3 linked regions of the Homo sapiens genome follow. The protein of the gene in region 2 purifies or fractionates together with the protein of the main gene of each other region. This does not show direct contact. Each region holds a gene or a part of one and is shown on either strand. Other genes may lie near its edges. The genes, in order: FBXO21, SLC22A24 and INTS6.

Region 1 (3,656 bases), on a different chromosome or scaffold from region 2:
TACGATATAACAAAATAAAATGAAAGTAGCAGACAGGGCAACAAACTAAATATGAAAATGGAACTAGGCAGAAAGCAAATAAAAAATAAATATAACAGATGCAAACTTGACACAGCTGGGCCACAGGTTCTCCCAAATGGCTAGAGGCCAGTGCAAAGAGGACCCTGATTAGTTTTACAGTTTAGTGTTCACAAGATACAAACTGACCAAACAGAGTCAGAGAAATATCTATTTTTAGTCAAAAATTTATCTCAAGGGTTTGCATATGGAGGATACTCCATGAGGAAACAGATAAACTCCACAACAATATCCTTACAGCAGAAGGAAAAATAAGTTTCATCGAGCACTCAGAGATGGAAGGCATAGTACTGACCTTCAAGAATGTACGGTCCATCAGAGAGAAGCTTAAAAAAATACATATAGGATGGGCACAGTGGCTCACACCTATAATCCCAGCGCTTTGGGAGGCCAAGGCAGGAGGATCACTTGAGGCCAGGAGTTTGAGACCAGGCTGGGCAACATAGCAAGACCTCATTTCTACAAAAAATAAAAAATTAGCCGGGTGTGGTGGCATGTAGTCCTAGCTACTCAGGAGGGTGCGGCGGCAAGATCGCCTGAGCCCAGGAGTTTGAGGTTGCGGTAAGCTATGATCGCGCCACTGCATTCCAGCCTGAGCAACAGAGCGAGACCCTGTCTCTAAAAACAGAAAAAAAAAGTTACTATACCTATATTACTATACCCATATATTACTGTACCTATATTTACCTGATGCATATATAAGTTGAGGGCATTATAGTAATCCATTCGATTCCCCTTGAACTTCAGTTGGTCGTAAAGGACATAGTTCATGGCATCCAGCACCTGGCTCTGGAGTTCTATTTCCATTATCATGGATGATTCACCTGAAACACAGAGATCTACTCTGGGACCCAAGCACAAAAAAGGTTGTGACAGGTGCCCCAAACAACTCACAACATGAAGACATTGGCAATGGCCTAACAATATTAATCAAGTGTTGCCAATCTAGGAAGCAGAAGGCAGTATGTATTTGAAGTGTTTTAGGTTCAACACTTCAACCAGGTAAACACGTGGTCACGTCATTTTATCACTTTTTCATGACATAATGGCAGCACACTAACAAATCTCTCAAATTAACCAATTCCTCTAGATTTTCTTTCATAAATACAGCTGGATCCAAAGCAATGCCACACCTGCCTTGAAGGCCAAGCTGGGGTGGCGACTGTTTATGCCCCGAAGGGTTTTGCAAACAAGCTCCACGATGCTGTCAATTTGGGCCTGGATGTCTTTGAGGCTGATGTCGGAGAGAGGATTGCAGTACTGGTCAATATATACAGCACCTGAAAATGAACAAGAATTACCGAATAAATTCTCACGTTACCCTTTTCTTATTAGTTTGCAATTTTACCCTGGACATCCTGGGACATGGCTCTTTACACCATCCCACTGGACAAGCTTCATGTTTTGGCCATGGACCTTGCTGCTAACACACTGAGAAGGAGCAACAAACATTTTCATAACAAAGTAGCTTTAACTTTAAAAAAAAAAATACATAAATCAAACTTCTCTCAGAAGTCATGGACTAAAAAACTGCGTGGTATATGGCGCAGTTTCATGTTCTATTACAAAGAGAAGTAAATGACATCAAGGAGATCTTTTCAAGCTACTTCTCTCTCCCTAGCTGTTATAGGTTCCAAATCCAACAACTCTGAAAACTTAATGGTATAAGGCAGTTCCTTTAAAAAAACAAAACAACAAAAAAAAACAACTTGAAAGCCCTCCATGACAGATGTGCCATTTCAACAAATTACACATCTCAAGGGTGAACAGTAAATGGATTCTGGAGCTAACCCCACTTTCCAATGAGATAAACAGTTATGCTCGGGGAACCTACAGCTGAAAAGCTGTGCAGAGCACACTGCAGACAGTCTCTTAAGAATCACTCCTCTTCACAGTCTTAGGTAATTTTGGAAGCAGAGACTGAAGGGCTAACAGCATCATTTGGGTAAGGACACCGTTATGTGGGAAGCTCTCGAGTCACCTTAAATTAAAGAGATCTCAGACCAGCTCAGAACCTGGACTCCCTTACCAATGCTCCAGAGCTCAAAGCAGTTGAACGGGTGTCAAGACACCTCGACCCCAGTCCCAGTGTTGCCACCAGCCAGGGACTGTCTCCTCGGCCTCCGAGGGCCCCAGCTTCCCTACCTGGAAGCTGAAGCAGTTTATGCTGCACATTTCTGAAGTCCGTTCCTTCCTAATGCTATGATTCCCAGACTTCTTCGATGGCATCAGCATTATTCCAGTCAGTCACCAAGGATCAGAAACTTGGAGAGCCAACTGTCATTCACTCAACTACTAAACAACTTCCAATGGCTTCTCAATGCTTATGACACTGATGTGGAAGTTCTTTGAAAATTATAACTTTGTATTTAGAAAATGAAAAAGGAGTATTTGTTTTCATACATAAGCTACAAAAAAATATACTATTCTTAACTGTGAAATAAACAGAAGATAGGATGCTTCTCAACTCCAGTATACAAATGAGGGGATTCTAGCAGTGAGAATTTATTTTAATCAACTGAAACAGATGTTTCATTTCCTTTTGGATGATACTAGGTTTTCATACACTTGATAAACATTTACACTAAGCATTGTGAGGTATACAGTGATCCTAACACAAGGACCACAACACGGGAAGCTTAGGGACTAGTTACAGAAACAAATGTATACACAGGAAACAGAAAAAATGCAAGACAGCTTACTATTAAATGCTACTGTAGCTCTGAGGTGAGTAAAATCTCCAAGTAGTCAGTGGAAATTTAATGGAAGTGAGGCTTGAGCTGAATTATGGAGGGGGAGTAGGATTTTCAAGAGGGATTATGAGAAGGAGGGATATCATGAATGAGGAAGTGAAGCCAGGTGTATTTGTGGGGCACCAGTCTAGACAATGGCCTGGCTGGAGCAAATGGGACATCCTGGAGAGTACGGAGCAAAGGTCTGGACCAGATTATGCAGGGCATTGAAAAGCAGGTAGAGGTTAAATATAAAAGGGAAATCAGTTGTCCACATTGCAGGTTTCACATGCAGTGGTGAAGGCTAGATTTCTAATGGGGCTGGCACTGGTATTTTGGCTGACTTGGAGGGAAGGGGGGGTAATGTTCATGAAAGCAAGTATTACTCAGAAAGTTGTTGCCAGGAGAGGTGGCCATAGACTGCATGAGACTAGTTACAGAAGCCAGCCAGGTGTGGTGGCACTTGAGCACGGGAGTTTGAATCTAGCATAGGTGACATAGCAAGACCCCGTCTCTAAAAATAAATACATTTTTTTTAAAAAAAGGAATAGTAACAGAATGGGAACATGACTATGAGATACACTGGAATGGAAAAAAAAATCAACAATCTGGTAAAACATCAGAAGTAGGGAATAAAAGTAAACGACCAGTCATATTTGTATTTCATAACCATAATTTATGGGAATGTTTGTGTAATATTGTAGGAATTCAAAATCATTTTAAAAAAAATGGAAGTCTCACTTTGTTCCTGTTCAACTTAATAAGAACAAAAAGATTCTCCACTCCCTTCATCTTGCCTGTCCACTCAACTTCTTCCTTCTCACCTTTCATTACGGACAAGCAGAC
Region 2 (3,756 bases):
TTGTGAGTTAGAAGGCCCCAGACAAATGCTTTCCAATCTTTGCTTTTAAAATTGGGAATTGTACTCCTCATCCTAGGACTCATTATTTACCTTATAGCATGCTCTTCATTTAAATACTGTACTAAAACTATAGATGAGAGTACTAATATTTTTGCCACACAAGCCTTGGAAGCCCATCCAGGCCTGCATGAATACACTCAGTAGCAAAGCAGTTCCACTCTTCTCACCTTGGGGTTCACTCCCATTCCCATTATGTCCCCTGTCAGCAGGAAGAAGCTGGAGTGATAGATGGCCTTTTCCCGTCTTCATAGCCTACATCTTAAGATTAAGGTGTTATAAAACCCAAAGGGAGGGATTGAAACTGCCTTTGCAAAATTATGACTGAGACCGTGAAAGAGATCTAACTTAACCGACTCCATCTTGCTTCTGACCTCCAAGCTGTCCTTGTGCATTCCTGGGCATAGGCTGAACTAACTTTGGGAGAAACTTAGTTTGTAGTTTATAGTTTGAACAAAGACAGCCTTTCCCAAAGCAGACCTCCTTCTTGCCTGGGGACTAGATTAACGTTAGCCACAGGATTAGAAATTATCATTTAGTAGTCACACAGCTGGAGGCTACAAGATTCTGACCCTCCCTAAACTGCTCCTAAGATCAGTGCTTGAGATATTTTGCAGATCCCGCACTTGATGGATCAGCTGTCACCACCCAGATCGATAAACTGGCTCATCTGATCTTGTGACCCCCACTTAGGAAGTGACTCAGCACAAGAAGGCAGCTTTGACTCCCTATGATTTCAGCCCTGATCAGTCAGCACTCTTGGCTCACTGGCTGCCCCCCAACCACCAAGTTATCCTTAAAAACTCTGCTCCCCGAATGCTCAGGGAGACTAATTTGAGTAGTAATAAAACTCTGGCCTCCCTCAAAAAACAAAAAGCAAAAAACAAAAACAACCAAAACTAAGTATCTCAACAACATTTTGTAGGAGAAACACTTTCACAACCAGCAGAATGCAGAAAAATTTGTCAAATCCCAAAGCGTGGATATTTATGTTACAGAATTAACAAACTTATTTCTCATTGCCAAAAATGTGTTGATTGTAATGGTTCCTATTTTGATTAATAAAGATGTGTTTGAGCCTAGTTATAATGATTTAAAATTCATGGTCTAATACCACAATTTACTTTTACACCAATATAATACTAATACACTTGGCTGTATCGTAGAGTATTAATAGATAATCAGGTGCTGCCACCTGCTAAAGGAATGAAGAATGAGCTGACTGCAGGTCCCATCTAAGGACTAAAGGTATAAAGCAAGTCAATTTTTTTGTGTTAACTCCAAACACTTTAATCATATAAACAGAAGATTTACATGGGGCCTCTTACCTCAGTCACGATGGTGGAGAGGAAAGAGCTTCTGTCGTACACCCAGCCATCCACACAGGGCTCCGTGTCTGGCTCATTTGTGTTGGGGAAGGTCCCGTTCAGGTGAAGGAGCTGCCACTGGGGATGGATAAAGCGCTGACACTTCTGTGGCCTCAGGTTTGAGTCCAGTGGGATGGAGATTCTCAGGAGGTCATCCTTGCTGAGGGTCCCGGTATCATTGTCAGACACAGTGTCATTGTCCAGGAGGGGGACCCAGCAGCGATGACTAGGGGTGAATGCAGTGAAGTTCTCCAACACAATATTAGGGAACAGTAGGATGTTGGTGATGCAAAAGAAAGCTATCAGACAAATCTGGAATCTCCCCATGCCACCCACTTGATCCAGGAGCACATCAAAGCCCATTGAGACTGAACAGGTGATCCCCAAGAGGAAGCACAATGACTTTATGAAGAGAAGTTCAGAGGGAGAAAATGTCCCCTTTCACAAAGTTACCATAGTGCCATGTGGATCCTGACACTGCTTTCTTCTTGGTGGGCCCTGCACTGAGTGGTGTGACACTACTGCAGAAGAGCAGTGGAAGGACTTTCCCCAAGTCCTTTAACTTTAGGCAGCCAAATAGTTTCAGAAGTCACAGATATAATTATTTGGCAAAGAGACTGCTAGCTGTTGACAACTGAATCTTCTTAAAAGACTACTCTGTGAAAGATCCTGATCTCTGAGTTTCCTGATAAGTCAACGGTGGATTTTCAGGTGGATGCAGTCCCCACGTGACCTAAAATACACCTGTTCAATAGTCTGCCATTCTTCTTAGAAATGGGATATTAGAAAATCCAAAGTGAATTGCTTTATGATGTTCTTGTACAAAGATCAGAGAGCAGGGCTTTTTTTGGACTAGGACTGAGTTTTACTAAAAGTTAATAAAAACTATTCTTAGTTAAAGGAAAGTGGAATGTTGAGTTTAAACATTGACTTTTGCTAAGTGTAGTTCTGCTTCAGTTCAAGTCATACCAATGACAGGGCTTTAAAGATTTTTTAAAATAGGGAAATTAGGATAAGAAACAAAGAGAAAGGAAATAGTGCTTTTATGTATTATAGTAGTATATTTCACCAGATTTATTGATTCATTCAAATATCATTTTGGGCTTTCTGGTGCTATTGCTGTAAATAAAGCAATGTTAACTTACATATATTTATTTATAAGTTTAAAATAAAATTTGAGCTCAATGTCTCATATAAATGATAGGTTTGTAAATAATTGTACTGTAATGTCATCATATAACTATAAGGAAGATACACAGTGTGCTATGGAAGATTAAGGAGAAACTGTTTAATGATACCTGGATAGATGCCATGGAGCAGGGGAGTCATCCCTCTACAAATTAACTTTACCTACTCTTTTTTTTTTTGAGACAAAGTATCACTCTGTCACCAGGCTGGAGTGCAGCGGTGGGATCTTGGCTCTCTGCAGCCTTGACCTCCTGGGTTCAATCAATTCTCATGTCTCAGCCTCCCAAGTAGCTGGGATTACAGGCATTCACCCACATGCCCAGCTAATTTTTGTATTTTTTATGGAGAAGGGGTTTCATCATATTGGCCAGGCTGGCCTCAAACTCCTGACCTCATGTGATCTGCCCACCTCAGCCTCTGAAAGTGCTGGGATTACAGGCATGAGCCACCATGCCCAGCCAGCTTGACCTACTCTTGTGGGAAGATTCTTGAGATAATGAAGCAGTGGATGAGGGACTGCAAGAGTCAATTTTTAAATGAGGGAATAATAAGTACACAATTACAGTTAAAGGTGTGGCATAATTGTGTACCTACAAGGATATTCAAAAGCTAGCAGCTAAATAGCATGCACGGATATAATGGGAAAAGACAGGTTGATTAAAAAGAAACCCAAAGAAACAAACAGAATCTCCAGAATTTATTCTGCCTACAAGAAGTTCTTATTTTTGAATTTCAAACTGGTCACCCGTGAAACATCTTAAGATGCAGATTCCTGGATGGGTGCAGTGGCTCACACCCATAATCCCAGCTACTCAGGAGGCTGAGGCAGGAGAGCCACTTGAACCTGGGAGTGAAGGTTGCAGTGAGCTGAGATTGTGCCACTGCACTCCAGCCTGGGTGACACAGCAAGACTCTGTCTCAAAAAAAAAAAAAAAAAAAAAAAAAAAAAAAAAAAAAAGCAGATTCCTGTCCAGCCTGCAGAGATTCTCTGTTCAGGAAATGACTTTCATGGATCTATTCCAAACAGGAAATCTAATACATCACAGGGTTTTGTTGTAAATTGTTAGAAATGTTTTAGTTCACTAGGGCTGCATAACAAAATACCACAGACTTAACAGAAGGTGACTTTACAGAAGTTTATTTT
Region 3 (3,656 bases), on a different chromosome or scaffold from region 2:
TCTAAAGATTTTATTATATATTCTGGATAAAAGAAGTAAACTCATTTAAGTAAAAATCAATCTCCAAATTTTAAAAACTGAAGTTTTTTAAAAAACAGCTTTGATGTGTAATTTATATACCATAAAATCACCTATTTTAAGTATATAGTTTGATGAATGTTAGTAAATTTATAGTTGTGAAACCATCATCATAATCCATTTCCACCATCCCCAAGTTTGTTGTACCCACTTGCAGTCAATCACTATTCCTATCCCCAGGCAACCACGTGACTTGCTTTCTTTCTATGCTCCATTTTATAAATGGAATTTTGCAACGTCTAATCTTTTGTACTTGGCTTCTTTCAATTAGCATGATGTTTTTGAGATTCATTGACATTATTCATGTATCAGTAGTTTGTTCCTTTTTATTCCAGAGTAGTAGTCTATTATATGGACACACCACATCTTCTTTATCTATTCACCAGCTGATGGGCACTTGGACTGTTACAAGTTTTTGGCTATTATGAAAAATGCTGCCATGTTGGCATGCTAAGCCTACAAGTAGAATGACTGATTGTACAGCAAATTTATGTTTACACTTCTTAAGAAAATATCAACTATTTTCTATCAGTAATGTTAGGAGGGTTGCTCCACATTCTCATCAATCCCTGTATTTTTTGTCTTTTAAATTTTATTCATTCTAGCAGTTATGAAGTAGTATCTCGTTATGGTTTTAATTTGCATTTCCCTAATGGCTGATAAGGCTGAGTGTTACTTCATGTTCTTATTTGTATTTGCATATTTTCTTTGGTGAAATGTCTGTTCAAATATTTTGCCCATGTTTGTCCTTTTATTATTGAGTTATATGAATTCTTTATATATTTTGATACAAGTCCTTTATTTGATATGTGCTTTTCTCCCAAGCTGTAGCTTCCCTCTTCATTTTTAATGTTTCTTTTAAAGAGCAAAGTTTATTTTTTATTTTAATGAAATTCAATTTATCAACATTTTTGCTATGTGCTTTTAGAAATCTTTGCTAACTCAACATCACAAAGATTTTTTCCTATGTTTTCTTCTAGAAGTTTATAGTTTTTGTTCTTACATTTAAGATCACGACCACTTCAAATAATATGAGGTAATGGTCAAATTCATTATTTTGCATATGGATATCCAATTGTTCCATTTGTTTAAAAGACTGTCTTCTTATCCACTACCTTATTTTAATATCTTTGTTAAGAATTGACTGTGTGTGTGAGGGCCTACATCTAGACTCAATTCTGTTCCACTAATCTCCTATGTTTATCCTTATGATGGCACCACACTGCATGGATCACTGTAGTAAGTTTTACAATAAGTTTTAAAATCAGATGATATAAGTCTTCCAACTTTATTCTTCTAAAATTGTTTTGGCTATTCCAGGACCTTTACATTTCCATATAAATTTTAGAATCAGCTTGCCTATTTCTACAAAAAGGCTGCTGGGATAAAGATATCTGTAACCATGAGTACTCACAAAGCATTTTTGGATCATGCTGTGGGTCTAATAGGGTCATCAGTTTAAGTACAAAACTATAGTGAATTCTACCATCCACTACTGCAACTTAAAGCAATTTCTAAACCTCTGTTTTCTCATCTATAAAATAAACAAGTTAGTTTACTCTTCATCAATCTATCCATTCATTCACACACCATGTACACTGTTTTAATTCTAGCAGTGACAGTATAATGATCATTAGTCTACAAGAGTACAGAAGTACTCTTTAAAGTCTGGATAAACTGAATGTCAGAGTTAACAGAAAATGTGATTTATCCAGTAACATAACAGAACATAACTAGAGTAGCACTAAATTCATGATTATTACCTTATTCAGCAAAGCAACTTGGAACCCAGTGTATTCCTTCATATTAAGGTCTAGCAGTCTGTGAGGGACATCCTCTGAAATTCCCTGGAGGAGTTGTTGAAAATCTTTCCTATATGCCATTGATAAACCATGTGATCGGCTCCGGACTTTTATTCCAGTCTCCTGTACTACTTTTTTGCCTACAGATCCAATGACTCGATCAGATTCTATTTTGGCCTAAAGTAAAAATAAGTCAGAATTATCTTGATAAAATCTAAATTAATAAATCAGATACTAATGGTTATGATCTTCTATAAATTAAATATATATTTTTTAAGTATATAAGAAGTTAAAAACTCAAGTAGCATAGTTTATGTCAAGTATTGGGTAAATTAAACATAGTTTAAACAACAATGTCTTATGATTTTAAATCATTACAACTCTAAACTTTTGGAGCAGGACAAACACAATTTCAATTTATTATTTTATTTATTAATACCCACTATACCTAAACCATGAAATATAAATGCACACTAAACAAAAATGTGTATTCCCAATTCAGGGGTGACGGTAAATTATTTTTTTAAAATCATCATTATGTAAGACATTTTTACTAGCACATCAATATGGCAAATAATTATGCAGTTCTTCCCTGGAAAGCAAGAAGCAATGTTTTGACTCCTCCCAAACTGCCTTTTGATTTGTAGTTAAGGTAGCAATGTCAGAAGTACTGGAGAAATAATGTATTTCATAGGACATTAATAATTTCACAGTCAGTTAAACTATATACTGCTTGACTACTATAGTATTTATTAATGTGACTTATGGCCAGAATGACAAAATTCAGTGTTTTCTACAAACATTTCAAAGAAACTCCCATTCTGAAAGAAAAATCTGCAGGTTTCAAAACATAAAGAGTTTTTTTTTTCTTTTTTAAGGAAAAATGACTTTCTAATCTAAATTTCTCAAAAGATAAATAATGTTCACATATAGCAAGTCTAGGACCACACTCATGAAGCCATTTTCATAAATTAGGAATTATTATATAATTTTCAAATTAATGTTTCAAAACATAGCACACCATGGATGTGAGACAGAATTATGTAATATATGGCTCTAAAATGTAATATATTAATATAATGGAATTCCATTAGAACCATCAAGAACTAGCTTTTAACCTGTTTAACCATCCTAGCCAAAACCATTCAAAATACTTAATGGCTCACTCTATTTCTTGATATTACCTGTTGACTCAGTTTTTTGAGGTATGAAATGACACTGTAACTAAGTCCATATTCCATACTGTCTGCTATTAGGTTAGGTGCTCCCATCATCCTAACAGCTTTCTTCAAGGGCTATAGGAAAAAAGAAAACATCATTCAATATTAAGCTTATTAAAAACTTATGGTTCCATGTATAGTCTGTCTTAAAATTTTCTCCAAAAAATTATTTCCCCTTCTTTTCCTCAATAAGGAAGTAACACAATCGTATTTATGTTTCAGTAAAATGTTTGTCAGTGGGATGAAAGGCCGTTTGAAGTAGTTAAAAAGGATTAGAGGCCATAATAACTCCCCAAGACAAGAAGGATAAGATACTGGTCTTCCTTGGTACCACTGGGAGAAACTAGGTTTGGAATAAATGGACAGAAGACACATTCTAGAGGTAGCTCTGATAAAACATGGGTAGTAAGTGAAAAACACTCAAGGAAAATGCAAGATTTCTACTTTTGAGTAATTAGCTGCTCAACCACTCACTAGTTATATGATTCTAGATCAGATTATAAATAAGCTCTCTGGCTCTCTGTGGCTTAGTTTCTCATTTGTAAAATGGGGATAA

Evidence for each region.
Region 1: the proteins of SLC22A24 (region 2) and FBXO21 purify together in Homo sapiens (affinity purification with mass spectrometry; one large-scale study listed by BioGRID and IntAct). This does not show direct contact.
Region 3: the proteins of SLC22A24 (region 2) and INTS6 purify together in Homo sapiens (affinity purification with mass spectrometry; one large-scale study listed by BioGRID and IntAct). This does not show direct contact.

Annotation. Positions count from the first base shown.
Region 1 is NC_000012.12:117,173,440-117,177,095, forward strand, and holds part of FBXO21 (F-box only protein 21), read right to left. Parts: intron 1,359-3,656; coding exon 1,212-1,358; intron 903-1,211; coding exon 766-902; intron 1-765. UniProt on the Homo sapiens protein: Substrate-recognition component of the SCF (SKP1-CUL1-F-box protein)-type E3 ubiquitin ligase complex.
Region 2 is NC_000011.10:63,141,993-63,145,748, forward strand, and holds the start of SLC22A24 (steroid transmembrane transporter SLC22A24), read right to left. Parts: upstream 2,230-3,756; 5' UTR 1,788-2,229; coding exon 1,386-1,787; intron 1-1,385. UniProt on the Homo sapiens protein: Renal transmembrane organic anion/dicarboxylate exchanger that participates in the reabsorption of conjugated steroids including estradiol-17beta-D-glucuronide (or 17beta-estradiol 17-O-(beta-D-glucuronate)), androstanediol glucuronide (or 5alpha-androstane-3alpha,17beta-diol 3-O-(beta-D-glucuronate)), and estrone 3-sulfate, as well as bile acids taurocholate and glycocholate, driven by an outward gradient of dicarboxylates such as glutarate or succinate.
Region 3 is NC_000013.11:51,376,398-51,380,053, forward strand, and holds part of INTS6 (integrator complex subunit 6), read right to left. Parts: intron 3,176-3,656; coding exon 3,065-3,175; intron 2,058-3,064; coding exon 1,842-2,057; intron 1-1,841. UniProt on the Homo sapiens protein: Component of the integrator complex, a multiprotein complex that terminates RNA polymerase II (Pol II) transcription in the promoter-proximal region of genes.